Linked DNA regions of Homo sapiens. The protein of the gene in region 3 interacts with the protein of the main gene of each other region in a pairwise test. Each region holds a gene or a part of one and is shown on either strand. Other genes may lie near its edges.

What was found.
Region 1: the proteins of ZFP91 (region 3) and TSPYL2 interact in binary tests that used the Homo sapiens proteins (3 or more experiments, as listed by UniProt).
Region 2: the proteins of ZFP91 (region 3) and AGR2 interact in binary tests that used the Homo sapiens proteins (3 or more experiments, as listed by UniProt).

Annotation. Positions count from the first base shown.
Region 1 is NC_000023.11:53,074,134-53,085,649, reverse strand, and holds the start of TSPYL2 (testis-specific Y-encoded-like protein 2), read right to left. Parts: upstream 3,284-11,516; 5' UTR 3,152-3,283; coding exon 2,345-3,151; intron 1,106-2,344; coding exon 1,028-1,105; coding exon of another isoform or gene 896-1,027; coding exon 784-895; intron 697-783; coding exon 551-696; intron 424-550; coding exon 329-423; intron 20-328; coding exon 1-19. Other genes in the region: GPR173 (probable G-protein coupled receptor 173), read right to left, coding at 7,907-9,028. UniProt on the Homo sapiens protein: Part of the CASK/TBR1/TSPYL2 transcriptional complex which modulates gene expression in response to neuronal synaptic activity, probably by facilitating nucleosome assembly. May inhibit cell proliferation by inducing p53-dependent CDKN1A expression.
Region 2 is NC_000007.14:16,791,398-16,801,999, forward strand, and holds the end of AGR2 (anterior gradient protein 2 homolog precursor), read right to left. Parts: intron 10,407-10,602; 5' UTR 10,400-10,406; coding exon 10,261-10,399; intron 9,987-10,260; coding exon 9,923-9,986; intron 9,807-9,922; coding exon 9,754-9,806; intron 8,421-9,753; coding exon 8,347-8,420; intron 6,298-8,346; coding exon 6,234-6,297; intron 3,623-6,233; coding exon 3,539-3,622; intron 1,561-3,538; coding exon 1,511-1,560; 3' UTR 414-1,510; downstream 1-413. UniProt on the Homo sapiens protein: Required for MUC2 post-transcriptional synthesis and secretion. May play a role in the production of mucus by intestinal cells. Proto-oncogene that may play a role in cell migration, cell differentiation and cell growth. Promotes cell adhesion.
Region 3 is NC_000011.10:58,579,899-58,590,500, forward strand, and holds part of ZFP91 (E3 ubiquitin-protein ligase ZFP91), read left to right. Parts: intron 1-4,957; coding exon 4,958-4,986; intron 4,987-10,602. UniProt on the Homo sapiens protein: Atypical E3 ubiquitin-protein ligase that mediates 'Lys-63'-linked ubiquitination of MAP3K14/NIK, leading to stabilize and activate MAP3K14/NIK. It thereby acts as an activator of the non-canonical NF-kappa-B2/NFKB2 pathway.

The DNA.
Region 1 (11,516 bases), on a different chromosome or scaffold from region 3:
ACATCTGCCCCTGGTTTTACTGTAAGGAAGGCTGTGGCTGAGTATAGGGTTGGTGGGAGGTGGTGTACTCATAGCACTCAAAGGTGGGAAGTAACTGGGGAAGCAGTAGGCTATAAGGGATCCCAGGAATGGGGCTAGGGTGGGTAAAGTCCCACTTCTGCCCCTGACTGTGTAACCTCAAGCCATTTCTGGGCATGATTTCCCACTTGTAAAACATATTCCACTGGGATTATCTCAAAGGTCCCTTTTTGGCTCCATAAATCCTGTGTTACACTAGTCTTTTCCCCATCCCCAACAAACCACCTCTCAGCGACCAAACTCCCATTACCGTTTCTTCATTTCTTGCTTCTTTCTCTTTATCCTGGAGCCCCTTTCTCTCAGGTAGTAGCGTAGAGGGTTAACCCACAGATCATTCTTGATAATCTGTTGAAAAAGGGGAGAAGGAATAAGACAGCCATTAGTACAAGCTCCAGATCCTCCTCTTAATTCCCCACGCACCCAGGAACAAGCCTAGCAAGGCCTTCTCTGGTGATGCCAGGAAGGGCCCCACCTCAGCAATCCTGTCAGCCTCTGGGAGGCTATGGTTTGAGAACCAGCTGAAAAAGCTGTGGCTCGCATCCTGGTTCCCGTGACGACGGGCCTGGGGTTCCTGGCCCCGGTGCCAGCGGATTGGGGTTGAGTGAGACACCAGCCGGCCTAGGGAGAGAGAAGGCTATGGAGATGGGACAAAACAAGGACAGATTGAGGGGGGGAACATGGATTTACTCTGGTACTGCCACTTACCTGAGCGGTTGCGCTGGAACTCCTTGACAATCACCATGTTTGTGAAGTAGGGGTTAGTCTGGAAGTACAGCTTCATTTTGTAGCCCATGGAGATATGTCTGAGATCCTGTACCTGCTCCAGGTGGGGGTGATGGTGGAATCTGTCCCCCCCCCAACACACCACGGCCCTTCCCACCCACCTCCCGTCACCTCCAAGAACCAGATTCGTGCCCGATCCTACTAAAAAATGTCTCTCTGGCCTGACCTGCAGATTGGTCAAGTAGCGGAAAATGTCTTCATCACGTCGGTTGATCAAAATTGAAATTCTGGGGTGGTTGAGGAACTGATGAGTGGAGCAGTTTAGGTCAAGGATTGACTATTCCGTGAAAGGGAGGGAGGGAAGGCCAGGAAGGGCACAGTAAGAGAGGCTGGAGCATGAGGATTCCTTCTGTGCTTATGTGGTGTGTATAAAGCAAGTGAGTCATGGGACATAACCCATACTTATTCCCATGATAAACCTCTATGTTAGGTGGCCCTACAGGGTGTCGACAATCCATGTGCATGTGGTATATGTCACTGGGTGCTGAAAGCTTGTGTTCACAAAATGCACGTCTGGGGGCTTAAGGGCCATGTCCAAGTGATGCTGTAACTGATTGCTGAGGGCCTGTGGTCACGTTATTGTATGTATGGGTGTTGAAGGTCCATGTCCACATGATGTGTGAATGGCTCTGATGGCTTGTGGTCAAGTTATGCCATGTGTCTACATGCTGAGGACCTGTGGTCACATAATACTGTGTCTAGGAGCTGAGGTCCTATGTCTAAATGATATTGTATGCCTGGGTGCTAAGGGCCTCTTACCATGTGCTGTTTCATATGAGGGCTAAGGGTCTGTATCCACATAATTCTATTAGGATGTTCGACTCATGTTCCTAACATGTTACATGTATGTGTATGTGTCTACTCTCCCCTTTCCTTCATTTAACTCCTTTTTCTCTATACCTAGACACTCCCTCTCTTGATCTTTCAGGGGCTCCAGCCCCCCTCCCTCCAATGCAAGGCACTCCAGCCAGGATTGGGGTCTCCTAGTATCTTAAGCAAAAATCTAGGTTTACAGAGCCTTGTATGGCTCAAGCACCCTTTCTGGGCAGTTTCTCTGCTGTGTGCCATTCCCCTCCCTCTTCAAGGTCTCTGAGTCAGTTCATCTTCTACGTGCCCCTCCCCTCCTCCTTTCACCATCTCTGGTCCAATTTTTTTGCTGTGTGCCCCTTTACTACCCTCCCCCTTTTTATCATCTGTGATCCTTTTTTTAATGCTATGTTCCTCCTCTTCCCCCTTTCCCATCTGTGGTCCAGTTTTTATGTCCGCCCCCCCTCCACCACCCTTCATCATCTCCAGTCCAGCTTCTCTGCTGTTTTGCCCTCCTCCTTCCATCCCTCTTCCACCCAGTCTAGTCCGTCTTCCGATAGGGGGATCATGCCCACCTCTGGCTCTCCTCCACCCGCTTTACCTTTTCTGTCCCTCCCCCACCTTCCCCTTTCCTGTCACGGGCTTCTGACCTACGGAGTATCGATTAGAAGGATACTGCTTTGACCCAGAAGCCTGGGATATGCTGGATGATGAGGTCTCTGCGCTCCAGGAAGGGTCTTCGCATCTGGATGAACTTGCGCTTGAGACGCAGGAAGGCTTTGCCTGCCTTGATGTTCACTGCCTCCAGATCCAGCTGAATATCCTCCAGTGCCTGCAGGATGCTCTCCATCCTCTCGGCATTTCTCTCTCTGCTTTCCCTCTTCACCTTCCTCTGCTTCCTCCTCCGCCGCCGCCGCCGCCTCCTGCTGCTCCTCATACTCTCCCGCTCATCCTCATCCTCATCCTCCACTATGATGATCGCCTCTTCCTTGCTCTTCGGGTCAACTAACCTCTGGGGCGCCCACCCCACTGCGCTACAGGTTTCTAGGGCCCCCTCTCCACCAAAACTGCTCGACTGTACAACCTGAAAATCGATTTCCAGGCTCCCCCCCGAGGCCTCAGGAGTGGGGAGTGCTTCCAGGCTCTCCGTGGGCGGGGGCGCCTCCCCATACCCCGACTCGATGGTAGAATCCCAGCCGGGACACTCAGCACCGAGCGTGAAGTATGCGCGGATCCCCCCCTCCTCGAGAATGACATAGGGAGGCGGCGGGGGCAGCGCGGGGCCCAGTCCCACCCCCCTCATATCGGCCAGCACCTGTGCCGCCTCCGTTTCCTCCTGGAGCCTCGGGCGCTGCTGGGGTGGAGGCAGCGGCAGTCGGAGGAGCGGCGGCGGCGGCGGCGGCGGGGGCGGGTCGCGCTGTGGAGACTCGGAGCTGCTCAGGCGGCGGGTCTTGGCCGGAGGCCCCTCATCTGGGCGGTCCATGGCGACCGCGTTCGTACAGCTCAGGGGACTCGCACTCGCCCCTTCGCTTTTAGCCGCGTCGCTGCCGCTAGTCGCACCGGTAAGCAGAGCTGAGGAGACTCACGCAACCAGCTCTCCTCACCACCTCGCTCTGGCGTTCCCTCCCACAGCGCCCGCTCTACTCCCTCCGCGCCAATCGCCGAAGCCCCGCCCACTCCTGACGCAGGGGTCCGCTCGGCCTGGCCATTGGCTGCCGGCCGCCGCGGCGGCGATCGCGCTCCCGCGACCCCTGCCCGCTCTCACGCAATCCGCTTGCCAACACCACACATCATCAGTTTCCGATTGGCTCCCCTCGGGCCCGCCAATCAACGGGCTGACTCCCTCAGCGACGGGAGGGAAACTGCAGGGCGATTGGCTGCGAGGAAAGCTGGGGAAGAAGCCCCTCTCCCTCACCCTCTCAGCGTTTTATCCAATGGGAAAAGTACCAGTGGTTCTGAAGACCAAAAAACGAGACGAAAAACAAACGCAGGCGCTGAGCAGGATGTGCTCACATGAAATTGGAAGAGCCTCGTTATCGTTCCCCCCGCCCCCCTCCCCTCAGCAACTACGCACTTTTAAAATCTGCCCCTTCCCCCATTTCCTTCAGCTCCTTCCCCCACCCCCGCTTCTGCCCCTTCCCCCATCCCGGGTCCTGCCCCTTCCCCCATCCCAGCTCCTGCCCCTTCTCCCACCCCCGCTTCTGCCCCTTCTCCCATCCCCCACTGCTGCCCCTTTTTCCATCCCCGCTTCTGCCCCTTCCTCCACTCCCCGTTTCTGTCCCTTCCCCCACCCCCCGTTTCTGCCCCTTCCCCCATCCCCCGCTTCGGCCCCTTCCCCCACCCCACCCCCGCTTCTGCCCCTTCACCCCCCGCTTCTGCCCCTTCCTCCCCCGCTTCTGCCCCTTCCCTCACCCCCCCTTCTGCCCCTTCCCGCATTCCCTGCTTCTGACCCCCATCCCCCAACTGTCTCTTCCCTCACCCCCACTTCTGCCCCTTCCCCTATCCCCCAACTTCTGCCCCTTCCTTCACCCCCCAACCCCACTTCTGCCCCTTCCCTCACCCTCCCGCCCTCCGCTTCTGCCCTTCCCCTATCCCCCAACTTCTGCCCCTTCCCTCACACAACCCCTGCCCCCCGCCCCCCCGCTTCTGCCTCTTTTCCTACCTTCCACTTCTGCCCCTTCCCCCACCCCCCACGTTTGCCCCCTGGGTGAACTCTGCTGTAGCTCCTCGGGGGCTCGGGCTGCCCTACCGCCTGCGCCTGCAATTTAGGCACCCAGGGTGTTTGGTTTGGGGGCCAGGTTTTGACGTGGCGTTTTCCATCTCCGCAAAATGGCTCTACAAATAATAATCACACACACAAAAAAGTAACTTCCTCTGCGTCATAAAAATGATTGTGATTCAGCTCATCTGCTAGAATTTTCTAGCACTTTCTGTCTCTTCATTTCTCCCCCTTTCCATCCTTTCCTCTCCCTTTCCCCAGTGTATGCTGTATTTTAAGATTTTTCTTTTTAAACCAGAGATGGATGGTCTTTTGTGAGGCATGGTGGTGGAGGGCTGGCTTTGGTGCTGGGATTCACATCATGGGTGTGCCCCTCATTTTGTAACCTTAACCAAATCACTGCCCCTCTCTGAGCTTCAGTTTTCTCTCCCCTAAATTAGGCATCCCTCAAGAGAGGTGTAGGTAACTGCCCATTGCAGCCTTGTCGCGGAGCAGAGAGGAGACCTAGGGATCCATCATCAGGGGAGTGGATAAGAAAAATGTGATATATGTTTTAGATGGACCACTAGAATGAATTAGATCTATATACGGCAACATGGCTGGATCTCTCAAAGACAGAATGTTGAGTGAAAAAAGAAACAACAAGATTTATAGTACAATACTGTTTATGTAAATTAAAACACACAGCAATACCATACATTTTTCACAGATACACATATATGTAAATAAACACATGAACGGTGGATTGGAAGGACGTACGTTAAATACACGAGAGTGGGTGCCTGTGTAGGGGGCGGGGAGGATGGGATCAGGAATGGGTGATGAAGGGGACAAAACTGAAGAAAAAAAAATAAAAGGGCCTCACATGGACCAATGATGATATAGTGTGCCAAGAACTGAGGAGTATGGTCAACTCAATTCTGTGCACCTGAGAGAATAACCAGATAGTAAATTAACTGTCTAGGGAGCAGGCTGGCTGGGTAGACTCCTGGGCTTGGGTTTTTTTTCCCCATGACATCCCTCCCTCTAAATTTGGTCAAAGCTGACCAAAGTCCCAGCTGCATACAGTGGCCCCTAGGAAGGGCTCCCATCCCAGACTGAGCAGTCCCTCCAGAAGCCATTACTTTGTGGGGGGCATTTCCTAACCTCATCAGTTTCCCTCACATTTGATCCTCAATTCCCAGTCCCCATTCTCCATGGTGGTCCAATTTTAGGAACACCTTGTTTGAGTTTGGGAAGGAGACTGAGACGGGGTTGAGATGGGGCTACAGGCTTTGTGAGGAGATGAGGTTTTCAAGTTCCCTGGCGGCCCCAGCCCTCCCGTGCTCAGGGCCTGGGCCAAGGGAGGCCCATCTTGTGAGATGGGAGTCTACCCTCTTGCTACCGACCTATGTAGTTTCCAAGATCCATCTCTTGACCACTCGACTTCCTACCACGGGCACATACTCTAGTTTGTCTCCTCTCAACTGTGGTGTGTGTGTGTGTGTGTGTATGCATGCACGTGCTGTATCTGTCCCCATATACAGGCATTTTACGTGTGTGCACCGGGCAAGTTTTCTTCAGGAGTGCCTCCCCACACAAAGTCACACAGACACACACTATCACTCAATCATGTCTCTCCACATGTGGTCAGACAGGGCACATGCACGCACGCACGCACACACACACACACAGTCAGAAAGAGAAAACATCCAGTATAGCATTGTTCATTTCAGTTTTTCCATTTACAAAATCCAATGGTGAATCCAGGCAGTTAGAAAAAAGAAATGGAGGAAAACCCTCCTAAATGTACCCTATCTACCCCCCACCCCCTTGGTCTTCCCACCCCACCCCCTCGGAAAGGCACCCCCATCACTATCGCTGAGAGAACAGGCTCCCCTACTCCCAGCCTCTCAGCCACTCTGGCCTGCCTTTCCAGGGCCACTCTGCAGCCAGGCTCATTAATGTCTCTCCTGCCTAGAGTGCCCTCCCCATTCTGTATGGGTCAGGCTTCCCCAGTTCTGGGGCTCTCTTGGGCTAGGGAGGGAGTTTAGGACAGGGACTTCTATAAAGAAGGGAAAGGGGGATGGATAAATACAGATTCCGGCCCCACAGGAAGTGAGAGGGGGACAGAGAGCCTGGGTAAGACCAGGGCAAGGAGTGCCAGCTTGGCTCACCAATCCACAGAACAGGCCTCAAAGTAAGCCCAGAGTGGACTCCACCCCTGGGAGGAGGCTTGGATCTCCCTCCTGGAGAATCTGACTGCAGTGTGCTCCACTTTGGGTGTAGGTAAGGGTGGGGGAAGGATGGGGAAGGAGGGTTGTTGGGAAAGAAGGATGCTTGGGGCTCAGGGCCCAGTCAGCCAAGGGCTACTAAGGAGGGGCTTGAGGCCCCTGAGGCTTGAGGGGGACAAAAAGAGGTCAGATAGGAATGGACTCAAGTCCACAGTGCCTTGGAGTTTGTACCGCTATCGGTTACCAAGGCCCCAAACAAATTTTCATCTTCAGAAGAGTAGGGTGAACCCGAGAGACAATTCTGGGGTTGAAATCAGCTCTGACCCAAGTCTCTGTGGTCCAGCTACTCTGGGGAGTTCAGCTCCCTCCTTACACTTTCCTGGTGGGCTGCTCCTGCCTGTATGGCACCCACATCAGTCCTAGTGGGGCTGGAGTGGATTTCCATCCTCAGGAAGAAGAGTTGGGGGCTGGGGATCCTGAAGGCAGCGTGAGAGAATGTGACCAAGTGTGGGTCTCTTCAGTTCGAGGAGTTCAGCTCACATCTTACTCTTCACCTAACCTGGGCCCATCCTTGGGGCCCTTCTCCCTACTCCCTTGACTTCTCCAACAGATGCACAAGAACCATTTGGGAGGTCTGGACATGGTGGGGAGGGAGAAGAGACTGGGCTTGGGGCAAGGGTTGGCCTAAAACAACATTGCACATGACATAGTAATTAAACATCCCTGCTCCCTGGGAACCCAGCACCCCCTTTGGTCCCTCTTGTCAGCAGCCTTGGACCACTTTCTCCCTAAACATCCAGGCCTTGCTAAAGGACTTGGAAGGGGAGGGTGCATGGGAGCAGAGGGGGCAAAAGAGCTCTGGAAGTCTATTTTACAGGACAAATTCCCCCTTCTGGACAGTGTCAGAAGGAGAGACATTAAAGTAAGAAAGCCTGTCTCCTCAGCTGTTAGTAGAAAAACCTGCATTCTCAGTGTTCTTTTCTTTTTCTGAATTGTCACTTCTGAGAGAGAGAGAGAGAGAGAGAGAGAGACAGAGAGAGAGAGAGAGAGAATGAGATTGTAGAAGTGGAGAAGGAGGCAGCGGAGACAGGCCCCACAAAACTAAATATGCCTCTTTCCCAGTCCCTCGCCCAGTCCTCCATCCTTGGGAGGTGTTGGCAAAGGTGCCTAGATTACAGGTGGTTCGAGGGGCTGGGGCTGGAGCTCAGAAAGGAGGACTCCTGTATGGGCCCCTACCCCTCCCTTGCTGTTGGCCCCATCACGGTGGCCATGACCTTCTCTCTGCCTGTCTGCCTACCAGCCTGCTTCACATGACACAGTAGGGTTCTCTGGGAGCCGGGGCACCTCCTGTGCCCCAGCAGGGGGCGTGAGTCCTCAGGCACTTCTTGAGGTCCTTGTTGAGCAGGAAGCAGACAATTGGGTTGACGGCAGCCTGGGCGAAGCTCATCCAAACAGCAGTGGCCAGGTAGCGGTGGGGCACAGCACAGGCTTTCACAAACACTCGCCAGTAGCAGGCCACGATGTAGGGTGACCAGAGGAGCAGAAAGAGCAGTGTGATCGCGTAGAACATGCGGCCCAGCTGCTTTTCACCCTTGACCTCGTCCATGCCCAGTAGCCGCCGGCTGGCTGCATGCCCATTCTGCCGGATACCCAGCAGGGTTGGTGGCATGGGCCCACGGCCAAAGCCGGCGATCCAGTTGGCAGCAGCCTGGCCGGTGGCCCCGGGACCATGGAATGTCCAGTTCTGGCTGATGGCTGGCACCATCTGCACTGGCTTCATCTTGCGGTGACGATACTCGAAGAGGAGCAGCTTGCCGTAGACAGCATGGGTAGCTGCCATGAGCACAGCCAACATAAGCATGAAGCCCAGCGTGTCATTGGCCTTGAAGTAGCGATGCTCAAAGATGCACTGGTCCTCCTCCCGAATAAACTTGTAGGTGCCCACGTCAAAGACAGGTGGGAAGGCCATGGCCACAGACAGGGTCCAGGCCATGCAGATGACAGCCGCGCATGTCCAGAGTGTCATGCGCTTGGCGTAGAAGCGGTGGTGGGCGATGGCCATGTAGCGGGTGACGCTGATGCAGAACAGCATGAAGGCCGCATGGAAGCAAAAGAGCACGGCCATAAAGGCCACAATCTTGCAGCTGAGTGCACTGAAGGTCCATGAAGAGCCGTGGCGCACAGAAGCCAGCACAAAGGGGAAGCAGACGGCAGAGCGTATGCCATCGGCCAGGCACAGGTCCAGCAGGAAGTAGTAAGGAGCCTTGTGCAGGGCACGCTCCTTGAGCACCAGCAGGGACAAGATGGCGTTACCCGCCAGGCTCACGCACATAATCAGTCCCAGCAGTACCAGCTTCACATAAGCTGATGCGGACGGTGGGGACAGAGCGCCGCTCACCTCCTCAGGCTCTCCGGTAGTGTTGGCCATACTGAGGGTCAGGGGCTACTGCCAACCCTAGGGGGTCAGCCAGTCCGGTACTCGATGGGCCCGGGGGGGCTCCATGAGTTGTCCTGCTACATTGCACCTGCAAATGGGAATGAGCGGGGGAGACACAGACACAGAGAGACAGAGAGATGAGGGCAAGAGAGAGACAGAGAGATGAGGGCAAGAGAGAGACAGGCAGAAAAACACAACAGGCGTGCAGAGACAAAGTGGGAAAGAGAGAGAGAGAGAGATAGAACAAAGAGATAGAAAAGTGGCCACCGATATAAATGGATTGAGATTGACACAGAAATGGAGGGGATGAGAAAGAGCGAGGAGAGAGAAAGAGGGGAGAGAGAGAGAGACAGACAGGAGACCATGAGAAACAGATGGAAAGGAAAGATGAGGAAGAAACAGAAAGGGTAGGGTTAGTGTGTCTACGAGCCCTCCCCAATTATGCCCTGGCTGGTGCCAGGCCCTGCCCCTGGGCCACTCCTGCTCCTACCCGCTCCTTGTCAGGTGAGGATGCTGCATTTCTTTGGATGTCTTTGGTTACCTGTTTCCTCCACTGGTGGATCTGTGGGGCAGGGATGTTGGTGCAGCTCTTCTCCCCTTTTGCAAAGCTCTAAGGTTGTGTTCAGACTTTTTTTTACTGCCACCCACAGTAAAAAAATACATTTTACATCACAACCCGCTACACATACATGCACGCACACACACAGCTCAACCAAAAGTTTCACAAAACAGTACTGAACCTGTATGCAATGTACCCCATTCATTTTTATTCTCTTTCATGTGTTCTTAAAATGCTGGTACCACTCACTTAATAGATTTCTTTATTCATGATGAGGAATGTGTTTAGTGTGCTTGAGGAACAGCAGGAAGACGAGTGAGGCAGGAACGGTGAGAGCAAGGGAGACAGTGGTGGAAGGTGAAGTCGCAGAGATGCCTTGGGGCCAGATTGTGTAGGGTTGTGGGCCACGATGAGGACTTTGGTTTTTATTTTAGGTGAGGAGGCAAGTATGTGTGAATATAAACATGTAGGGATGCTTGTGCATATTCATTCATACACTGAAAAAATATTTATCAAGCATCTGTGTGCCAGGCACTGTTCTAGGTATTGGGGATACAGCTGTGAACTACACAGATAAAGATCCCGGCCCTTGTGGAACCGACATTCTAGATAACAAAGAAGAGACACGGGTGAAGTATAGTATGTCAGATGATGACAAGTTCCTAAGAATAAACATAAAGGAGGGAAGGAAGATAGGAAGTGCTAGGGGTGGGGAAGATGCTGCAGTTTTAGATGAGGTGGACAGGGGAGGCTTCACGGAGGAAGTGTCATCTGAGCACAGACCTAAGGGAGGTGAGAGAGTGAGTCATGCGGATATCTCGGGGAAGAGAAGTCCAGGCAGGGGGAACGGCCAGAGCAAAGGCCCTGAGGTGGGACTCTACATGGCATATTTGAGGAAGAGCAAGGAAGCCACTGTGGGTGGAACACAGTGAGTCAGGGGAATGTGGTGGCAGGTGAGGTCAGAAAGGTGGTGAGGTCAGATCAGGGAGGCCGTGGCGAGAACTTTTTCCTCTGAATGAGATGGGAGTCACGGGAGGATTCTGAGCAGAGGCCAGATGTGGTATGATCTAGGATGGAACAGAATCCCGCTTGCCGTTGTGAAGAGCAGGGGTCATGTGGGGTGTATTAAAAGTAGGGAGACTACTCAGAGGCCCCTGCAGCAATCCAGGTGACAGATAATGCCCCCTCCATGCCACTCTCCCTATTTTGCCTCCTAGAATTTCTCTCTTCTAACACACTATATATTTATATATATATAATTTTATAATATAAAAATTTATATATAAATTATATATATTTATATATAATTATATTTATATATAAATACAAATAAATAAATATAAATATATATTTATATATTTATTTATAATATTTATAAATAAATATATATAAATCTATATTTATAGTTATTTATAAATAAATATATATAAATCTATATTTATAGTTATTTATAAATAAATATATATAAATCTATATTTATAGTTATTTATAAATAAATATATATAAATCTATATTTATAGTTATTTATAAATAAATATATATAAATCTATATTTATAGTTATTTATAAATAAATATATATAAATCTATATTTATAGTTATTTATAAATAAATATATATAAATCTATATAGTTATTTATATATAAATATAAATATATATTTATATATATTTATATATTTATTTATAAATAAATATAAATATATATAAATATATATAAATATACATTTATATATAAATATATATGAATGTATATTTATATATATTTATATGTAAATGTATATTTATATATGAATAAATATAAATGTATATTTATATATATTTCTATATGAATAAATATAAATGTATATTTATATATATTTCTATATGAATAAATATACATGTATATTTATATATATTTCTATATGAATAAATATACATGTAT
Region 2 (10,602 bases), on a different chromosome or scaffold from region 3:
TTTATTTATATTTAAAAAGTATTTGTATGTGTTAAGATATTTTGCCATTCAATACATTTTAAGAAGTTAACCTTATTTCACGTCCGCCCAATGAAAAAATATTTTGCTATACTATAGGAGAAACTTGAATCACTTAGAACTTGTCATTTAAAATATTTGTTTATGGAAGGGAAACCTCTTTTTCCTCTTGTTATCCCTCAGAGATCTTTTTAAATGGAATGTTTTACCTTTTTCAGCACATGTAAGTTATCTACTTGTGAGAAGGGAGCTGATTAACCTGTGATATTTTTGCTGAAGATTTGTATGTCATTAAATCAGCAGTATATGCTCAACACCTACTAATGATAGTAGTCACTAGGAGAGATAGAAAAGATTGAAAATATATCCCTGGAAAAATTAATAATGCCAAAAGATCTGTTCAAAAAAGGTTTTATCCAAAAAAGTTAATCAAGACAAGCAACAGATACTGCAAAGCATTATATACAGCACCATAGTCCAGGGGCCAAAGAAATCAGGAGGGGCTGGGCAGTAGAGGAATTCCATATATTAATGAATGTGAGATTAAGTATAGAGTGAAGACATTAACACACAATTCTAATTTCTGTTAGGCAGAATGCTCCCCTACCCTGATGCCACAGCCTTTCACGTTTCCTAAACCCTAGTAACCTCTGATCTCCATCTGCCTCATCAACACGTCACCACCCTTTGCTCTTCTTCCAATTAGTCACATGTTGGCTGAATTTATTTCACTCCAGTACTTTAGGACCTTGACAGACAAATCGATTACAAGGTCAATTCCCAGGATTTCTTCAGGGTGTGTTCAGGAGTGCAGATGTTCTTTGGATGACCTTTCTACTAAATTAGACCTCTGAAGGAGAAAGCTACTTGCCAGAGGCTTTCCCTGAGAGCATTAGGTTGGGCAAAATCTGACTAAAATTTAATTACTAAATGAAAGTGTGTACCTTAGAGTTCCTGGCCAGAGTTGACTCTAGGTAGTGATGTGATTTTCTTGGGATGTTTTTCTAAATATTCTTTTATGCTAAAGCACATGGCTTGATACTTCTGTTGATTAAGCTCGTGTCTACTTACAGTCATCTAGTGAGAACCTGTGGTGTGGTGAGATGATAACTTGGTCTTTGGTCTTCATCATTTGAACTAGTTTTGGTTTTGTCTTGTCCCTTCCTTGAGCATTTTGTGTGTGTTTAATCCTATTTGGTAAACGAACCACTGTGAAAGACCAAGTTGGAGAAAACAGAACACCCCCAAAACATTTATTTTTTTTTTTAGAAAATCATGGCTCACTATGGTAGTATACAATATTGTTTTCACACATGTACACTTGAAACCAAATTTCTAAAACTTGTTTTTCTTAAAAAATAGTTGTTGTAACATTAAACCATAACCTAATCAGTGTGTTCACTATGCTTCCACACTAGCCAGTCTTCTCACACTTCTTCTGGTTTCAAGTCTCAAGGCCTGACAGACAGAAGGGCTTGGAGATTTTTTTTCTTTACAATTCAGTCTTCAGCAACTTGAGAGCTTTCTTCATGTTGTCAAGCACTAATGGGGGATAAAAGCAGGAGAGTCAAGACACCATCGTGCGTTATATCGATATAATAAACCCCAAACTTGGATGCTCAATTCATTATTTAATGGGATGCTTTTTTTTTTGAGACAAGGTCTCACTCCCACTCAGGCTGGCATGCAGTGGTGCAATCTCCACTCAGTGCAACCTCTGCCTCCTGGGTTCAAGTGATTCTTCAGCCTTAGCCTCCTGAGTAGCTGGGATTAGAGGTGTGCTCCACCATGCCCAGCTAATTTTTGTATTTTTGGGAGAGATGGGGTTTTGGTATGCTGGCCAGGCTGGTCTCGAACTCCTGAGCTCAAGTGATCCACACACCTCGGCCTCCCAAAGTGCTGGGATTACAGGCGTGAGCCACTGTGCCCAGCCTGATAGGATGCTTTTTATCATGAGGTGAATAGTTGGTAATCTTATTGTAATTTAAAAAAATTATATGAAATGGCTTTTGTGACAATCTAGTTTTCTAGTGTAGTCATTCCTTCCCAGATCCTTCATCTCCAACCCTCACTTCCAAAAGAATCCTTTTATAAGCTCTAGCAGCAGAAGATAATTTTGGCTCATTTAGAAGTAAATTTAAATCATGTTTAAAAGAAATGTCTATTAGTAGGTGTGTGTAAATTGTTTTAGAAGTAGGGGAAATATAAATAATAGCAAACCAAGTGCTTTATGCAGATGAATTCTTTAATCCTCATACAAACACGATTAGAACTTTATATATACATAATGAAACAGGCAGAGAGAGGCTGAGTAGCTTGCTCAAGGTCACACAGCTAACAAGTAATGGAGCTACTGTTCCAGAGCCCAAACTCTGGGTCACTGTTTCTTCAACAGCAATTCATCAAAATGAGGTATGTGATCTACTAAAAATAAGATGTCCACTCGATAGGCATTGAACAGCCGCTTATTCACTCTTCCTACAAATCTTAATTATTAAGTGCCTGTTCTACAAGGGATTGTGATATTACTTGTGTAGGACACGTGCCTTTTAAGAGCTTAGTCTTATTAAAATGTATGGTATTATCTCAGTAATGGCTGACAGTACTTGGAATGTGCTTCCCCTGGTCCAGCACACACTGGAAACATTGCTAATGGACCATGATGATCTCTCCTGCTTCCTAGACACGGCCTCACTTCTCTTCCCAACATGACGTTCTAAGTCAGCACTGGCCAATAGAAATTTCTGTGATGATGGAAATGTTCAGTGTCCGGGCATTGAGCACTTGGAATATGGCTAGTGTGACTGAAGGAATGAATTTCTAACTTTAACTTAAGTAGCAACATGTGGCAAATGGTTAACATATTGGACAGTGCAGTTCTAGGCAGCCACTACTAATTGATCAGAGTTGGTTCCTAGGATAAAACCCACTTTTCTTCCCAGAGGACTAATCAGATGTCACAGCTAGCTACAGCGTTGCATTGAGGTACCTCATCTGCCTTAAGTCAGTGTCTCTCTCTCTCTCTGTCTCTCTTCCATTGATGGCAACCATAGGGAAGGTAATTTTCTTGGCAATCATTTGGATCATCTTTGAAACTGATCTTTAAACTGAACCTGAATTTAATTTTAAGCTGGACTGCACATTCTTTCACTTTTGTTATTTAAAAAATTAAGACATGCAGATTATTACAATTATTACACTCAGTTCTGTGATAGAAGGAGTGTGTGCTCGTGTACCTAACAGAAAACCTGAAAATCAGGTAATGTGGTCATAGAATCCTCCTAGAGAAAAAGATACCTAATCTAAATAATTCATCTTCAATTGAGATTAAAAACAAACAAACCTGAGATGGAAAGAGTGTGATTTGCCTGAAGATGCAAGGCTAGTTAGGGTCAAACTGAGTCCGAGGCGTCCCTAAGCCTAGCTCTCTCTCACCTCACCATGCAGCCTCTAGTCCCATCACTACAGCAATAGAGGTGTTCAACTCTTGGGCAACATCCGAATTGAAGGTCACACTTACACAGAGCTGTATCTGCAGGTTCGTAAGCATAGAGACGATTTGAATATCTTCCAGTGATATCGGCTCTAACTGTCAGAGATGGGTCTGCAAAGATAAATGAAGCAAAAGGGAATGGAATGGTTTGTTTTCAAACAACCTGTATTTATTGCCCCGGGGAGCTGAAGTTCATGTATTCATGTCCTGTGAGGGAATGGAGTGTGTCTGCACTCACAGGAGCTCTGATCCATCCACTCTACTACCCAGCCCCTGGCAGTTAGTAGCAAATGCAGGGCTGGAAACATCAACAGCTGTGCAGTGCTATTTGTGGAAAAGGTTATGAACCCTTCTGTTCTATCTATGGCAACCTGAAAACAGAATAATATATATTTAGGGGTGACATGGTGTTTTTTTTTTTTTTGGTGAAAACATTAACATTCTCTACTGCAAAATTATTTTAAATTCTTGAAACGATTATGTTGTAGTTTACATGTTTCTAGATCATTGGAAACCCACATCCAATGCTAGTTTTCAAAACGAGTTTTTTAAAAAAAGTTAATAGAGGAATGCAAGTCCTTAACAACAGCAAAGTTCAAATAAGCATATAGTACCTTCACTATATTTTACTTTATTGTTAATTAACTGCATTTTTAAAAGTAGAGATTGGTCTTCTCTTATGTATACTTATATCCCTCTAAATTTAAATCCATCTTGCCATGTTTTGTATTTAACTTGAAGTGATCTAATTAATGAGAAAAAGAGGTATTTTAAAATTAAGGTGCATCCAAAAGGGAAGCGTGAGGATACAGAGAGATCTGGAAACCTTGCCTTGAGAGACGTAATCGAAAGAACCTAGGACACGTGCCCTGAAAATGAGACAAGGAAGACATGTGAGAACCATCTGCATGTTTGCAAAGTCTGTCGCTGGTACTGGAGTGGGCAATCTGTCATTTCAGAATGTTGGACTAAGGCCAGACACATAAATTACAAGAAGCAGATGTACATTTATTCACCAGATTTAAGACCAACTATACTTCTGTTTGGTGCAGAGGATACAAAGACACGGTCTAATCTTTGTAAGAAATTAACCTAAGAAGGGCTTTTTAAATACCCAACTAGCAGCTCACCTGGCTGCACATTGGAATCATCTGGAGAGCTGTAAACACTATGGATGCCTGCCTCCCACCCCCAGAGATTCTGATTTAATTGGTTTGAGGTGTGGCCTGGGCAACTTGATCTTTAAAATCCTCCAGGTGATTCAAACATGTAGTCAGGGTGGCTACTACGGAGCTAGAAGAGCAAGCTGCCTTGGAGCTGGTTCTTAGGACTGAAGGAATTGAATGTGGGTTAAAATGCCCTTCCACAGGGATGCTGTACAAAGAATTCCTGTACAAGGTATGAACAGACATCTATAAATTCCCTTTTAATGTTAGGATTCCAAATGTCCTAAATTCTGACAAAACTAAACCTATAAAATTAGTGCTTTAGTTCAGCCTTCTTCCTTTTTTTCTATTTCTTGTTTTTCTTTTCCCTGCTTTGTACATTCAGTGTAAACTTTTAATGAATTACACAGGTGAATCATATGATTAGCATGAATTGTTGTAAGTGATGGATTTCATTATGGATTGTCCTTAAATCAGTATGACTTTGAACAAAGCCAAACTCAGTACATTCATTCAATAATTAAACACATATTGATGGAGAGCCTACTGCAGGGTCACGTTGGGAATATCATGGTGAGCAGAAATAGGTACAGTCCCTGCCATAGGGGCTTATAGTCCAATGTGGGAAATATTTATTACATAACCACCCCCAAACTGCAAAATTATACCTGAGGAAAGTATGACTACAAGAGCACATAGTAGGGATTTGACTCGGTCAATGAATAATGATGATTGGGGAGTTAATGATGTGAAATTGGGGGACAGAGAAGGAAGTGGGGAAAGCATATGAAAAGTACCAGTGGCAGGAAGGAGCATGTGGCTCCTTTCATTTCTTTTTCCCACCTCATATTCCTTTTTTTTTTTTGAGACAGAATCTCGCTCTGTTGCCCAGGCTGGAGTGCAGTGGTGCCATCTCGGCTCACTGCAACCTCTGCCTCTTGGGTTCAAGCAATTCTTGTGCCTCAGCCTCCCAGGTAGCTGGGATTACAGGCTCCTGCAACCACGCCTGGCTAATTTTTTTTTTGTATTTTTTAGTAGAGATGGGGTTTCACCTTGTTGGCCAGGCTGGTTTGGAGCTCCTGACCTCAAGTGATCTGCCGGCCTTGGCCTCCCAAAGTGCTAGGATTACAGGCGTGAGCCACCCAGCCTTATTCCTAACTTTCTTAAAAATAATGATAAAAAATGTCAGAAAAATCTAACACACAAAGTGAAAGTTTGCTGGATTAAAAAATAAATATTTGCAGGCCTCTCGTATTCAGGAAATTTATCAATATGTTTAAATAGTGAATAGGGTGCTTTGTTCTCAGAAGTATTATAGCAGAAGATGAAAAGTTACAATTAGCATGTGAGAAAAGAAAGTGTTGTGTGGAAATAGGTAAAAGCTCACATTTTCTAAAGAAAATATGTTGCGGAACTTAAAGGAATGTCATGCTCCTTGCTAGAGCTTAGTGATGACATTGGCCATGGCAACGTGGCAAGGGACAGTGGGGAGGAGAGAAGGAGGATGGCAGCACTAGTATGTGTTTCCGAGTTATCTCACTGTCACTTCCGCTTACCAACAAACATAATCCTGGGGACATACTGGCCATCAGGAGAAAGGTGTTTGTCAGTTGTTTCATACTAAAATAAAAAGAAAAGCATCTTTTAGTTTACTTTGACTTTTCAGTCGTTTTCAAACTTGTTAATACAAGAATCTGTCCATTTCCGGCCAGGCATCTCAAGATATCATAACTCTTCCACACAGAGTTTATTGTACAGATGAGGAGACAAGTTACAAGCATGAAATAATAAATAAGATAGAGCAGAACATGAGATAAAGTGCTGAATGGATGTGATAAAGAGCAAAAAAATTAAGGGAGAATTTGGAAGGAGTTACTGTGTTTGGGGAAGACATCTGGGATGAAATAAGAGGCTATTAAGGAAAAAAGCAGATGTCATTTCTAGAGAAATTACGGAGACAAGTACGGGATTTTCTTGAGTATTCATTTATCCATTTATCAATTTTTATTTAGAACTGTATTTAGCAAGGCATGGTGCTTATCTTTAATGAATGCACACTCTATTGAGAGATACAGGTAGGAAAATGAATATTGAGGATGCAGTGGGTGAAATGTTACGGTGTAGGATATGCAGGTTTGGTGATTGCCTTGAGCAAGACATTTAGCCCAGAATGCAGATTCCACCCCGACTAGGACTTTCTGAAGTGGATAAGGAGGAATCTTTACAAATGAACAGGAGTCAGTTAGGTGGAAAAGAAAGACACTTCATGCAGGGGGAAGAGTATGGAGAGGACAGGTGGAGCATTTTCTCCTATGGCCAAGTGCTGGGGAAGGACTGAGTTGGGGGGATGCACGAGGGCAGTGGCGAAAGAAGGTGCTAGAGCTGCTTCAGGGGCCGGCTTAGGAATGACTTTGCACACCATGCCATAGTGTTTTCCTTTGTTCAGAAATAGTTAAGAACCACTGGAGGGATGTTAGAAGAGGCACTGTGACCCCAGTTTGGTCTGTAAAGCAACTTCTCTGACAGCCATGTGGGATTAGACAGAGTTTATCTTGTAGACCAGGAGCCATTTAGCAGTATTACAGTAAGCTAGGGAAAGTGAAAGAGGCTTACTAAAATAGTGGTCCTGAGTTTATAGAGAAGTGACTAGTAGCAGGAATACTTGGAATTTAGAAGCACAGGGCTTATTGCATGCTGTAGGTAAGTAGGAGAGTCCAATCTAGCACAGTACCACTTTCAGTAAAATAGGGAATAGAGAAAGAAGAGCTATTGGAAAAGCGCAAACCAAGATGATTAATGTGCAGTGAGGAACATACTGAGTTTAAGCTGATTATGAGATATCTGGAATATGGTTGGATAGACAATTTGGAAGTTGTTTCATGTTTGGGTAAGATGTAGGAATTATTAGTGTGTCGGAATTGATTAAAGGCAGTTGTAGATGGAGTTGTTCACTGAATACAAAATATGGAAAGAGAAAAGGGTCAAGTAGAGATTCATCATGTCACTCACATTAAGGAGTAGGAAGAGGAAGAGGAAGAGCCCATGGAAGAGAGGCAAGGAAGAACTACTGGTGCGAAGTGGTCTTTAAGGAAGCCAACCTGTGAAGAGGAAGGGCCGGAGGGCTCAAAAGGACATATGATTAGGTAGAGTCATTTTTTTGTTGGCTTGCTTTTAGAAGGAAAATGAAACATTTGTATACAGTAAAAAGAACTTGCCGAGACAGAAAGCTTGAGCACCGTGAGGGGTGGTAGTGGTGAAGTAAGGTGGGAATGCATGAAGCTAAAGCACAAGAGGCATGATTAGAGTTGGAAAGCCAGAGAGCTGTCTCTTCCCAAGAGATGACCAGGATTAAGAATGGGTGTAGAGAAGCCAGGACTATAGAGGGACAGGCACAGCAAGTAACAAAAACCTTCCAGCAACAGAAAAAATTCTGACTACGGGAGATAATTTTTCAGACAAACTAAGATGATTAATTACTAAATAAAAACAGACACACCAAATGGATTATTAATACAACGAAATATCTTTTTTCTCTCTAATTTATGAGATGGGATATTTGGAAGCAATCCCAGTTAATGCAGTATAACTAAGATGTATAGGAAAAATGAATCATCCATTTCAAGTAATGAGCCATAGAGAAATGTTAGTAATGATGAAAAGGAAACTTACAACCAGATTGAGGAGGACAAACTGCTCTGCCAATTTCTGGATTTCTTTATTTTCAGCAAACACTTTCTTTAAAGCTATAATATAAAGAAAAATCATTAAGCATCCATCTTAGCATTGGTTAAAAGCTTTGTTCAATTTTCAGTTAAATTGCATTTTATTTACTTATTGAATTGCATTTTAAATACAGTATTCTACTTTGGCCTTTTAGCAAATGATTAGTGAAGTAATATCTATGGCATTGACTACCTCTGCTTTCTATTCACTCATTCATCCATTCATTCATCAATTCATTTTTTTCTCCAGCTCATATTTATTGAATGGCTGCCATGTGTTACGCACTGTGTTCTGTACTAGGGATGGTGCAGTGAACAAAAAAAAGCATGTGTTTTTTCACAGAGCTCACATACTTGTGTGGGAGACAAACCATAAACAAAGAAATAAGTAGATGATACTTTCAGGTAGAGATATGTACTTTGAAGAAAAATAAAGCAAAGCAAAGGGTTTAAAAACTGTGAGTGGTCAGGGCAGATCTTCCTGAGGAGCTAACGTTGAAGTGAGGGAGTGGTCCATTTTGGGGTAGGCCACTGTGGGCAGGGGGAACTGCAAAAGCACTAGCTGTGAGGTGGGAATGAGCTCACCTGTGGGAGGAACAGCACGAAGGCCAGGCTGGAGAGAGTGAAGAAAGCAAGAGGAGAGTGGTAGGAAGGGAGAGATAGCCATTGGCCTGATCATGTCAGCCTCATAGGTTGTGATCAGAAATTTGGATTTAGTTCTGTGATAAGAAGCCACTTGAGCACGTGAGTGATGGAATCTGATTTATGTCTACCAGCCTCACTCTGGCTTCTGTGTGGACTGGCTGTAGGGTGGCCAGTTAGGTGACTGTTATGGTAGTCTAGACAAGATCTGATCTGGGCTTGGACCAGGGCAGTAGCATGGAGGCAATAGGAAGTGGTTGGATTTGGGCCCAGTGCAAAATGAAAGGGTAGAGCCCCTTGTTGAAGAATTACTAAGACTTTTAAGACAATGATAGCCAAGTTTAAACCAAGTTTGGGAACCTTCTAAGCTTGGGGCCCTGTGAGATGGCACAGGCTTCATGCCTGTGAAGCTGGTGCTGGTTTAAGGATATATTTTGAAGATAAAGCCAGTATTTGCTGGTGTATTGAATGTGGACTGTAAGAGAAATCAAGAAGTTGAAGATGAATCCTAAAACTAGTTTTTCAAAATATGTACCAATGGTTATCACAAAATGTGGAGATATTTGAAGTCACTTTTAAATATGTTTTTACTATATAAAATATTCTTTCTTTAATGCAACTGTGGTTCTAAAGATACAAACATGAGTGATCTGAACCCTGGCCCTAAGGCTAAAAGCCTATAAAGGAAATCATACTTAGAAGAATAAATTACCTTGACTGTGTGGGCACTCATCCAAGTGATGAATAATCATCAAGGGTTTGTTGCTTTAAAAGACAGAGATTAGACAAATTTTAATGAGTAAGATTTCACATATATCTAGATGTCACTAGGTGGTGCTCTTGAGAGCTTTGAGGGAGCTCTGAGTAATCCTGATCTTTACCTTGTCTTGGATTTATATAGAGCTTCTTCATATGTCTGAGTCCAGATGAGTTGGTCACCCCAACCTAGAATGAAATGAATCAGTATATTTGAAGCTTGTATAAATTCAGACCCAAAGCTGTTGAAAAGCAATGGTAAAGACTGGGATAATAGACCCTATACTAAAGAAGAAGAAAAACCCCTGGAGAAAGTAGAAATAATTATAAACAGTGATAAGTCTAGAAGGAACACAACCAAAAATAACCTGGCACCAGGTTAGAACCAGGTTTAAGCACCAAGAGAGAGGAAATCTTTTCCAATTAAGTAGCAGTTGGAAGCCAACAAGAAGCTGACTCCTACCTCTGGAGAGGGTCTGGGGCAGTTTGGGTCGAGAGTCCTTTGTGTCCTTTTTGGCTCCAGGTTTGACTGTGGTATCTCTGGCCAGAGTGTAGGAGAGGGCCACAAGGAGCAAGAATGCTGACACTGGAATTTTCTCCATGGCAACTCTAGTATGGAAAACCAACCAAAATCAGTAAACAAAATTGAACTAGCAGTCTTCAGGGTCTGCAGGTTGCCCCACAACGGTGGAATATACCAGAAACTGAGGCTCTGCTGAGACTGGACATACGAGATTGGCGTAAATAGCTCTGTTCCATGGGATTTTCCTAAGAATACAGGTGGTCTTTGACTTACAATTGAGTA
Region 3 (10,602 bases):
TGACACCCGCAGGCTCATCCCTCTTTCTGGCATCCGCACCCCCTTTGTCACCCTATCCCTTTCCTTTAGGCGGCTCTCCAGTATTACATCACATGCCCTTTAGGGAATACACAGCCCGATCATAGCCTTCAAAAATGATTCCCCCCCGCCTTCGCGTTAGCTCAAGAGCCAGATGTACTAGTGTGTTTATGTAGCTTTTTTTTTTTTTCACTTTTCTAAATTTTTCGCAACCCTTCTCATTCTTTTGAGAAATTTGCCACTTATTATGGTCAGGTTAAAAGCCCACTGCTACGATTTTAAGTATGGAGTCTTTCATATAAAATTATATGAGCATTCTTTAATGTTTGTTTTTACTAAGTAGCATATGTTTTATCTTTGTGTTTCGTGTTTTTAAATGTAGGAACTTCATCCTTGAAATTAGAATCATCTGAGAGGAATTCCTTTATTACCTAGACGTAATAGAGGAAACATGAACAGGTGGCCAGGAGCATTGTCTTAAATTGTTCGTTAAAATAATACTCATGTTAAGAATACTGAAGCACACAAGTTTGTAAATTCTAGAAATTAATCACATTGACTATTCAATTCATGACTGAAAACATCATTAGTGACCTTTGATTTTTGAGTGAAAACAGATTAGTAAAAACAGAGAAAATTGAAGTGAGGGGGAGTCAGTTTTAAGTGTTCCCTTTCTTCCAGTAGAGATAGTGGCAAGGTTTGACTTACACCAGACCTAATAGATTTAAAACTTGAAACAGACTTGGTCCAAAATTAAGAGTTAAGCCTGTGTCTTGGCATGCTTGCCTTAGAAGCCTCTCAGAAAGAGAAATAAAATTCAGAGGTAATCATATTGTGGTATTAGATATGCTTTCAAATTTTTGAATGTCAGCTAAGTTAACATAATTTAGAGAATTTGTTGTAAGAACTGCAGTTCTGTCGACAGCAAAAATCTGTACTTACAGATTCAGCTGCAATTAGACTTCTAATTGCTGTAGATGCATTTCATCTTACAAAAATTTTATAGTTCTATATTGTTTAATCTCATGAATTTGAAAAGATACATGTATATCATTGACCTCATTTGGATATGAATTCCGTGAGCAAATTCCTTAACCTACCCATGCCTTAGTTTCCTTACCTATAGAGGATAATCTCTGCAACGTGAGTTTGTGAGAATTAAATACAGTGTGTAAAGTGCTAGACACAATGCCTGTTGTAAATACTAAGTACAAGTTGCGTTTTTCAGTAATGGTGGGATGGTAGATCCTTGAGTGGTTTGTAGTGAGGTTTTTCATATAAATTATGCAAAATATGATTTTTTCACTCTTTAATATTACTATTCGTAGAGAGGGTAATACTTAAAATATTTTTAAAATTTCCTTTTATTCTCACCTACCCCTTGAAAATTAAATATACCTATATCTCAAGATAAGATAATTATGTCTAAAATGGTACCTGCTGTTTAATTTCTTTTTTTGGAGATGGAGTTTTTGCTCTGTTGCCCAGGCTGGAGCAGTGCCACGATGATCTCTGCACACTGCAACCTCCGCCTCCTGGCTTCAAGCAATTCTCCTGCCTCGTCATCCCAAGCAGCTGGCATTACAGGCGCCCGCCACCAATCCCAGCTAATTTTTGTAATTTTAGTAGAGGTGAGGTTTCACCATATTGGCCGGGTTGGTCTCCAACTCTTGACCTCAGGTGATCCACCCGCCTCAGCCTCCCAAAGTGCTGGGATTACAGGCGTGAGCCACTGCGCCCAGCCTGCTGTTTAATTTTTGAAGGAAAATAAATAATTTTTATCTAAAACAGTAATTTTACCTGCTGTCATGATTTATTTTTGCCCTAACTCTTGGCAACAAAGTACTAGTGACGCTTTAATTCCATATAACTGTTACTGTTGTATATGGATGAAGATGACTTAATTAAATTCCTTCCTTTTTTCTGCACAATGTTCCTTGTGGGGAGGAAGAAATAAGGCTGAATTCTTAGCGCCACCCGCCTCCCATCCAATATCATTAGAAAACAGTAGTGACAATGGCATTCTTCTTTCAGCCCCAAAATTATCTCTTGACTGTGTTTTTGATCAGGTTGTTAAACAAATTTTCGTCATAATAGAGTTTTTGTTACACATTTTTACCTTATTCCATAATCTGGAAATCAGAGGAATGCTAAAGCATTTTAGCTTGGCAAACTTGTTTCATCAGTATCTGGGCCTGGTACTATGCTGAACTAGGTGGTAGAAAGAAAAATGAGACATGGCCCTCATCTTCAAGGACCTTGGGGTGTAAGGCAAAGATGCATTAATTAGTGGAGATATGTCAAATGTGTGTATGGTATACAGATTTTCAGTCATAAAATACATTTTAAGACTTAATTTTTTCTACATAATTTAATCCTTTAAGATATTTCAAGAGGTTTTGAGTCCAAACCCTGGTCTGGTATCTTTGACTTTGAGTCATTTCTGTTTTCCAAATGACATTTTGAAAATTTTAAAAAGGAAGGTTTATTCTGTATTACTTACTTGTTCGCGCTAGTCCTTTTTCCATATCCCAGCATTTCCCTGTATACAATCTTAGTAATCAGCTGTTTAACCTACATTTGATTTTCTTAATTAAAGTGATAGTAAAGTATACCATAGTTTAAAAGGTCAAGAAATAGATAGATTTGGATTGGTTGAAACCTCTGTTCCCATTGGAAGGCAAAATAATAGAGTGGATAAAGCATTGGACTTTAGTCAGAAAGTTTTATGTTCCAGCTTTGTACTGTGCAGTAAGTGGCCTTGAGCAAGTCACTTAACCTCTTCATTTATAATTGCTTCATTTATAATTGATATTTTATGAATTTGCGAGATGACATATTTAGCTTACAGTTTTTATAATCTGATGTTTATAACAACTTCTTTTCACAATGAACTATTTAGGGGTTATTGGGAAGAGGAAATATTTGTGGATGAAGGGGAAATAAAAATTTTTCATTGTGCTCAAGAGAAGCACAGAGTTAAATGCTAGAATCATGATAAATTGAAGCATAGAAAGCTAGTAGGAAAAATAAACCAAATTTGAAGAAAGTTTATGTATCCATACTAAGAGTAAGACTGATCATTTGCTGTATGTTAGCCAGTAAATTACAGTTATTTCAAGTGCACGTTTATATACTGTCTTTAATTTTTGAAGTAAAATCTAGTAGCATTAGTATACTAGTTTTTGCCTATGATTTTTTTCTGATTCATCCATGCGTTCTGCTAGTAGGGAATGAAATTGTCAAATTAAGACTAGGTTAAAATGTATAAGGCTTTTTTTCATTCTTACATGTAATAGCCCTTCATTTATCCTGTGCATTTCAAAACTTAAAACTTTAGGGACAAATACTTTTTAAAAATTCTAACTTCGCTGTTGAGTAACCATATTAGCTAATACTGAGTATTTTTAGATGTCTTCCTTCAGGTTCAGATTAAGGAAAGTAGTTTTATTTTCTAGTATGTGAAATTCCATTTTTGGTATATTTTCTTGCTAAAATTAAAACAGTAATAAACCTTTAGGTGACCTTTCTTGCTGTTTCCCTTTTGAAGGTCATGGATAGTGAGGATGAAGAGGTGGTAATATTCTGAATTGAAAAAACTTACAGTTCTTTGGAGAAGCCTTCAGTTGTACAAGACTGAAATCCTGTGATCAGGATCTTAATCAGTATGATGATAGAAACATTGAACCAACTTTCAAGGTTTTTGGAAAAGTTTGTTATATAATTTTTCAAAAATTTAGCAATTATTTCTGCAGTTTTTATTTAAAGATGGGATGATTAGCAGTTATGGTGTGTTAATTGGGACATTGGTAATGTGATTTAAAATAAAATTATAATACCAGTCTTTTTTAAAAAAGTATGGAACAAACAGTGATAACTATTGTTTCTAAGTAGAATAGATTTTTGTATTACACTGTGGCTTCTGTATTTGTCTGGGTATTTATTTATAACATATTGTAACATAATAGAGTCTTTACTATATTAGGTTTACTTTTGGGAGGAGCAACAACAAAAAAACTTTGTACTGTTCAGAGATACTCTGTGGTATCTATATGATAAATGTTCAGGGCCTGTTGACTTTTGAATTTTAGTAGTAAGTATAGGAAGTTCATTATACTGTCCTCACCAGTTACGTATGAGAGAAATTTTTCTGAATGAAAAACCTGGGGATATGTCTGATTTTTGTTGTTTTGGGGGTTTTTAAAAAAATCTTCAGGCTATAACAATTTTTAAGCTCTTTACTGTTGCTTTTTAATTTGTAAAGGGCAAGTTACATTTACTTGTGAGGTCCACCTATTGTCTTTTTACAAGTAGATTTTGATTTGGTCTTAACAAACAATTTTAGGGTCTTTTTAACACTTCATTGAGTTTTTATTATGAAAATTGTTAAATATACACAAAATAGGGAAAATAGTATAATGAAACCCCAGTATTGATCACCTAGCTGAGATTTTGCCATGCTTGCTATGTCCATCCTCCCTGTTTTGGCAGAAGTATTTTGGAGCACATCCCAAACATCATTTCATCTCTAGTTAGTACATTTATATAAAATAAGAACATTTTCTTATATAATCACTTAATGTAACAAAATTAGTAATATTTTCTTTGTATCAATATCTTAGTTAAAAATAGGTGTTTTGAATGATATTCTAGCTCTGTGCTGTCAGTTATGTAGCCACATGTGGCTATTTAAATTTACATTAATCAAAATTAAAAATTCAGTTTCACAATTACATGAACTGTTTCAAGTGCTCAGTAGCCACATGTGACTGCCATATTGGACAGTGCAGATATGTTTCCATCACTGCTGAAAATTCTGTAGGACAACACTAGTCTAGATGCTTTCTTTATCACTCTGGAGGTGAACCTGAAAGAGATATTTATATTTTCAGAAAATGTGCTAGATTGTTCATTAATGTTTGATTCTTATTTCTTTCAGATGCATAGAAAAAGTAACAACTGATAAAGGTAAGACTTGGTCATCCTTACCTCTAGCGTACATTACACTGATTATCTTTTAATCTGTTAGAAAGCCTCATCATTCAAATTGGTTCCCATTTAAAAGGAATTTTTATTTGGTAAAAAATTACTGGAGTTAGAAAATATTTAGACGACAGCACGTTTGGATAATAGAGTATATTGGCATTATTTAGAAACCTAATAAAGGCAAATCAGATTGTTTGATGGTAATTTATAGTAACTTTTTTAAGCCTTTTATTTTTAAATGAGGTAACAGACTGGAATGATACACAGTATACAGAGTAAAGTGAAGGCAAAAATTTTTATGCTAGTAGAAATACAGATTAAAATTACAGGGTGAAGAATGCTGAGTGTTCTAAGAATTCAGCCTGGTGAATAATTAAATTAGGTCAATATTAGGTCATTTTCCTTTAAGTTTGAGTGTTAGCACACCAGATGTATGTATTATAGTTTTCTGTTTTCCTGGATTATGACAGGAAGCTAATGTTCACTTTTTCAATAACTTTTAAAATACTTTATTCTGGCTTTGCAGATTAGGTTATTAAAATTGCCCTAACGTGTTGGACCAGTTGCTTATTCGTTTCATTTTTGTTTTTTTCTAGTTTTTGGCTGTGTTCCTTGATGTTAAATTCAAACACACAGCATCCTCCTTAAAACTGAACAAATATACTTTTAGGCACATTTCTTTTATTACGTGTGACCTTGACCCAGGCTTGACACAGCCAGTTTCCAAACTCCTAGAATCCACCTAGTATCCATAGCTTTTAAGGTCTGCTTATAGCCTGCTACTATTTCTATAAAAGAATATATGTATATGCATTTTATATATCAGTGTATGTATTACATGTACATGAGAATCTTAAGGTTTTTCTGTTCTTGATAAATAATTCTTCGAGAACGTATAAGGCAAGTTTAAAGCCTGGATTTTGTGCCATATGGAAGAATGATAGTGTAATTTAAGAACCAATAACTTGCATTGGTGGTGGCTGCTTTGTAAATAATTAGGTTTCAATGCTAAGGTTTCTTATTTCTCTGAATTTTGGAATGTGAGTCTAATATTTCATAGTATAGCAGGCAGAGGTTTTTCATACCTGGCATTTTTTTTTTTTTATTTAGAAACCTTGGCATGATTATTTTGTCTAGCAAGTTTTTTGTTCCTGTTGTTGTTACTTAGAAAATAGGTTATGTCTGCCAAAAATGGAAGGTCTCACATTTCTTATTCAGAGATCAATTTGGAGATTTTATGATGTGGAGAAAATATAGAGACAGGTAACAAGTCTAGAGCATTCTGATTAAAACAAAAAGCAACCTGCTTTTGTCAGAGCTGAAATTACCTTACGTGTCCAAAGAAATCACTATGGGTTGCCTTGAGGCGAACTTGAAGAAAGGTGGAAATTTGGAGCCCCTTTTGGAGAGAAAAGTAGATGACCTTTGGGTAGACGTCTTTTTTTTGTTTGTTGAGTAAAGACAGGGTTTAGCCAGGCTGGATTCGAGCTCCTGGCCTCAAGTGATCCGCCTGCCTCGTGTGTAAATGTTTTAAACTAGAAGTTGACTTATTGGCATGTTTTGTGGTTGTGCAGCTGTGGAGAGATTAAAACTACATTCTGGATAATTTGATCCGAAGATCAATCCCACTTTACTGTTTAAAGGCCCTGGATCTAGATATTCTCAAATGCCAATCTTCATCTCTGTTAGTTTACCCATTAAGGTAGCTGTTCAACTCTATGAACAGTAGATAGGTATATAAGAACTGTAACATTCATACAAGATGAATGAATAAAGAAATGGAGGCTCGGGTAGTCACTTTTTCCTGTTGTGTTTCGTATTTAGAATTCACCTTAATTACTTTTCTTCTGGTCATTTAACTTCTCAGTTATTCTGGTACTCTGGAATAGTCCTCATGTTCAGTCTGCTAAATTTTAACTGAAATAACTCATGTTCATTTCAGAAGTTAAGGGTTTTTCAAAACTTTAAACAGGTTTTATTTTTTAGAGGTAAGACTGGCCTTCTGTTATATTAATGCTGAAAAGATATCTTCAGGATTGTTTTTACTCTTATTTACTCAAACCATCTAGAAATTGTATGCCTTCTTTGAGTTGAAGAGAAGAACCTTTGACATACACATAAACAATATTGCACACACAGAGTAGGCAACTTTCCATTAATTTGCAAAGCTGCAAATTAAGTTGCAAAGTTGCAACTTAAAAAAAAAGTTAAGTTGCAAAGTGCTACATTCATTTTTTTCAAACTGAAATAATAAACATGAGTATTAGTTCCTGTTTTTGCTACCCTTTTTTAACCGTGATTGGTGTATAAAACAAATGGAAAGCTACTATGCTAAAATAGTGTTAATTCATTCAACAGGTAATTGTTGAGCATCCACTATGTGTCTGGCGCTATTCTAGGCACTGGATTCTACTGGTAATCAAATAAATGAAGAAGTCAAAACAGTGTAATAATGTTTGATGAAGTTGGAGCTGAGAAAGCTAAGTTTAGATGAAATGATAAGGGAAGACCTTTTGGTGGAGGTGACATTTGAGATTACACCTGAATATGCAGATAGTTAATTTGGACAAGGAACATTCCACACAAAAGTTAAAAAGGAAAAATTACTTCAAACTTGAAAGCTTAGTTTACCACTGGCAGAGGATTATCTTCATGATTGTGGAGTTTCCAAGAGTGTTAGTAGAAATCTTAAGGGATGGAGATCTAGTTCCTTTTTAACTTGGCTTTATGTTTTCATTGTTTCTCTGTTTTGAACCAGTGTTGTACTTTGATTATAAAGTAAAAGAATAGTCTACCTACACGTAATTTTTAGTTATCCCAGTGTTCATTTTAACTTATTTCACTTTCTAACCTCTGACTAGACATGTTATGAAGCCTAATTTTTTTTTCTCCCATCTGTTATGTCCTTAGTGAGGAATAATAGTTAAAACTGCCTCTCAAGATAAAACATAAAAATGGAGACCAGAATACCTTAATGTTTATTAAAGTATGTTTTAAATGTTTAATGGAATGATAATAAATACTGTAGAATCAAGTAGATGTGGGCAGTGCTTCAGTTATTAATGTTAGATAGGTTATTTATTGCAGAACTTCTCAGAAACTTTGATTTTTGAGTAATGTGCAGTGTAAATACCAAAATTTTGCAGCGATTACCTAACCTATTTGACTTATAAGACCCCCTTTTTAAAGAGCATTTCGTAAAACTGGAGTTTACAGAAAACATACTTGGAAATACTGCATGCTTGAAAATTTGATTGTATAAAACTCTGGATCTCAACCTTTTATTCAAAATCATTTTACTCTTTTCAGTTGCTCTTATGAAATAGTGATGTTTGACAGTGATTACTGTGAGTCTCTAACTTGTGTAGTCAGGAAAAAAGAAGTCAGTCATCAGATAAATTCATAACAGATCTCAGCATTTACTTAGATTATTTGGAGCTTAACTGTTAAGTATTTACCTTACCTAGTTTATCATAATCAGCATACTATCTGTAATTATTACTAAAGTATTAGTTTATTTTGATTATTTTTCCTCCTGTCTGGATGACATCCTCAGTTTTTTTCTTATATTGATACAGTCTAATTTATAGCTTATGCCTCTGTGCTCCATGTTTTAAAATTAGAATTAATTTGTTATTAACAGTTTTCATAGATTTCAACAGTTTTATTTTTCATGTATTGAAATATCTTTGATTATCGTATCCTCTCAAATCAGTCTCTTGTATCCCATTCATCTTGGCCTCTTGTCAACTTGCAACCTCAATATAACATTGACTGTTTTTACTTCCTTTACAGATGTGTCTGTTTTATAGTATACTTTTTTGTTGGTTTTTCTTTCTTTCTAGTATATTTAAAGAATATTTTTATTATTTCTAAAAATACAGAAGACACATTTTTATGCTTTTTTTCCCATTCCAGTGAGAAAAATCTAACTTGTAATTCTTACCATTTGAGTTTGTGTACAAAAGGAAGAATCGAGAAGATACTGAGAACATTGTCTTCACAATTCTTTCTTGAAAGATTTTGAATCTCCTTGCTAATGACCTAGTTTTCCCAGTCAAAATAAAATCTTTTAGGTTTTGAATAGAAAAAGAGTTCTGGAAGGAAAATCTGTAGGTGAGAAAGGGCGTGTATAAGCCCAGTCTTAACACTCAGATAGGCTTTTAAGGTTTTTTTTGTTTGTTTTTGAGACAGGGTCTCATTTTATTGCCCAGGCTGGAGTGCAGTGGTGTGATCATGGCCCACTGCAGTGTTGATCTCCTGGGCTCAAGCCATCCTCCTGCCTCAGCTTCCCAAGTAGCTGGGACTACAGAAGTGTGCCGCCATTTCCAGCTAATTGTTTTTGATTTTTTTGTAGAGACAGGGTCTCACTGTGTTGCCTAGCCTGGTCTGGCTAGGCAGTCCTCTTGCCTCGGCCTCCCAAAGTGCTGGAATTTATAGGCATAAGCCACTACACCCAGCCTGTTAGTTTTAACTGAAATATTCCCCTTTACCAATTAAATGATACTGTTCTAAATTTAAATGTAAGTTAAAAACAACAACAACAACAAAAGCCTCTTTCCCTGGCTTCTCTTAATACTACTGAGATTGGCTAATATTTCAAAGCAAACTTTAATTATTTATGGAAAACAAAGTGCAGCTAGTGATAGAAATACACAGAGTAGTTCAGTTAGGTTTCAGAAACTCAAGTTTCTGACAATATAATGTTCAAGCCTCAAAGGCTAAATACAGTAGATAGACATTTTTGTTTGTCCTTCCTTCCTAATCTTTTATCTTAAGGTAGCAGTAACTGTATTATTTCTCTTAGTATGAGAATAATTTACTCAGACATCTTGTTCCATGTTGGGTATGGCCCAGATCCTTTAATCCGTATTGCTAGTTCAGACATCCAAACCTCCTTTGGTTCTTTTCCATTATTAATTTCCTACAAATAAAGATATATGTCACTTATAATATGTGAATTGTGATGTAGGCTTAAAAAGCCTTGATCATCAGCTTATTTCAGTTATGGGATTACCTATCAGGTAAATGAGTCTTAACTTTATAATAATTTGCCTATTACAGCTCAACTTATTGCCATCTTCGACACAGTTATAAGTTTATTCTGCTATATATATTATTTTACATTGAGATCCCTTTTCCTGCCAAGACCACTTGAGAGTTAAAGCAGAATGCCCTGATAGAAGAAAACTGAAGCAGAGGAAACTTAAAATCCTTAGTGGGGAAAGCCATATTCAGCCAGTACAAATCCAAAACCTTTAAGAGAGACTTGCTTGTATCTTCATTTTGAAATGAGCCTTAGTGGATAAGAATCTGTGACAAAAAGTAATATTGCCCCTTGACTGTTAAGTTCAAGAAAGAAGAAATTCCTCTGAATTAAAACCAGCCTGAATAATCTAATGCTATCCGGGCAAAGGCTTCTTTAGCTTCATAACAAACCATCTAAAAATTTAGTGGCTTAAAACACAGCAATTTATTATTTACTGGTTGGGCCATTCCCCCCTCCTCATTGGTCATTCAGTTCAGACTTGTTTTATATTATGGTGGTTGTGGCGCAGTGTTCCAAAATCCTGAAGGCAGTAACTGCAAGGTGTCTTG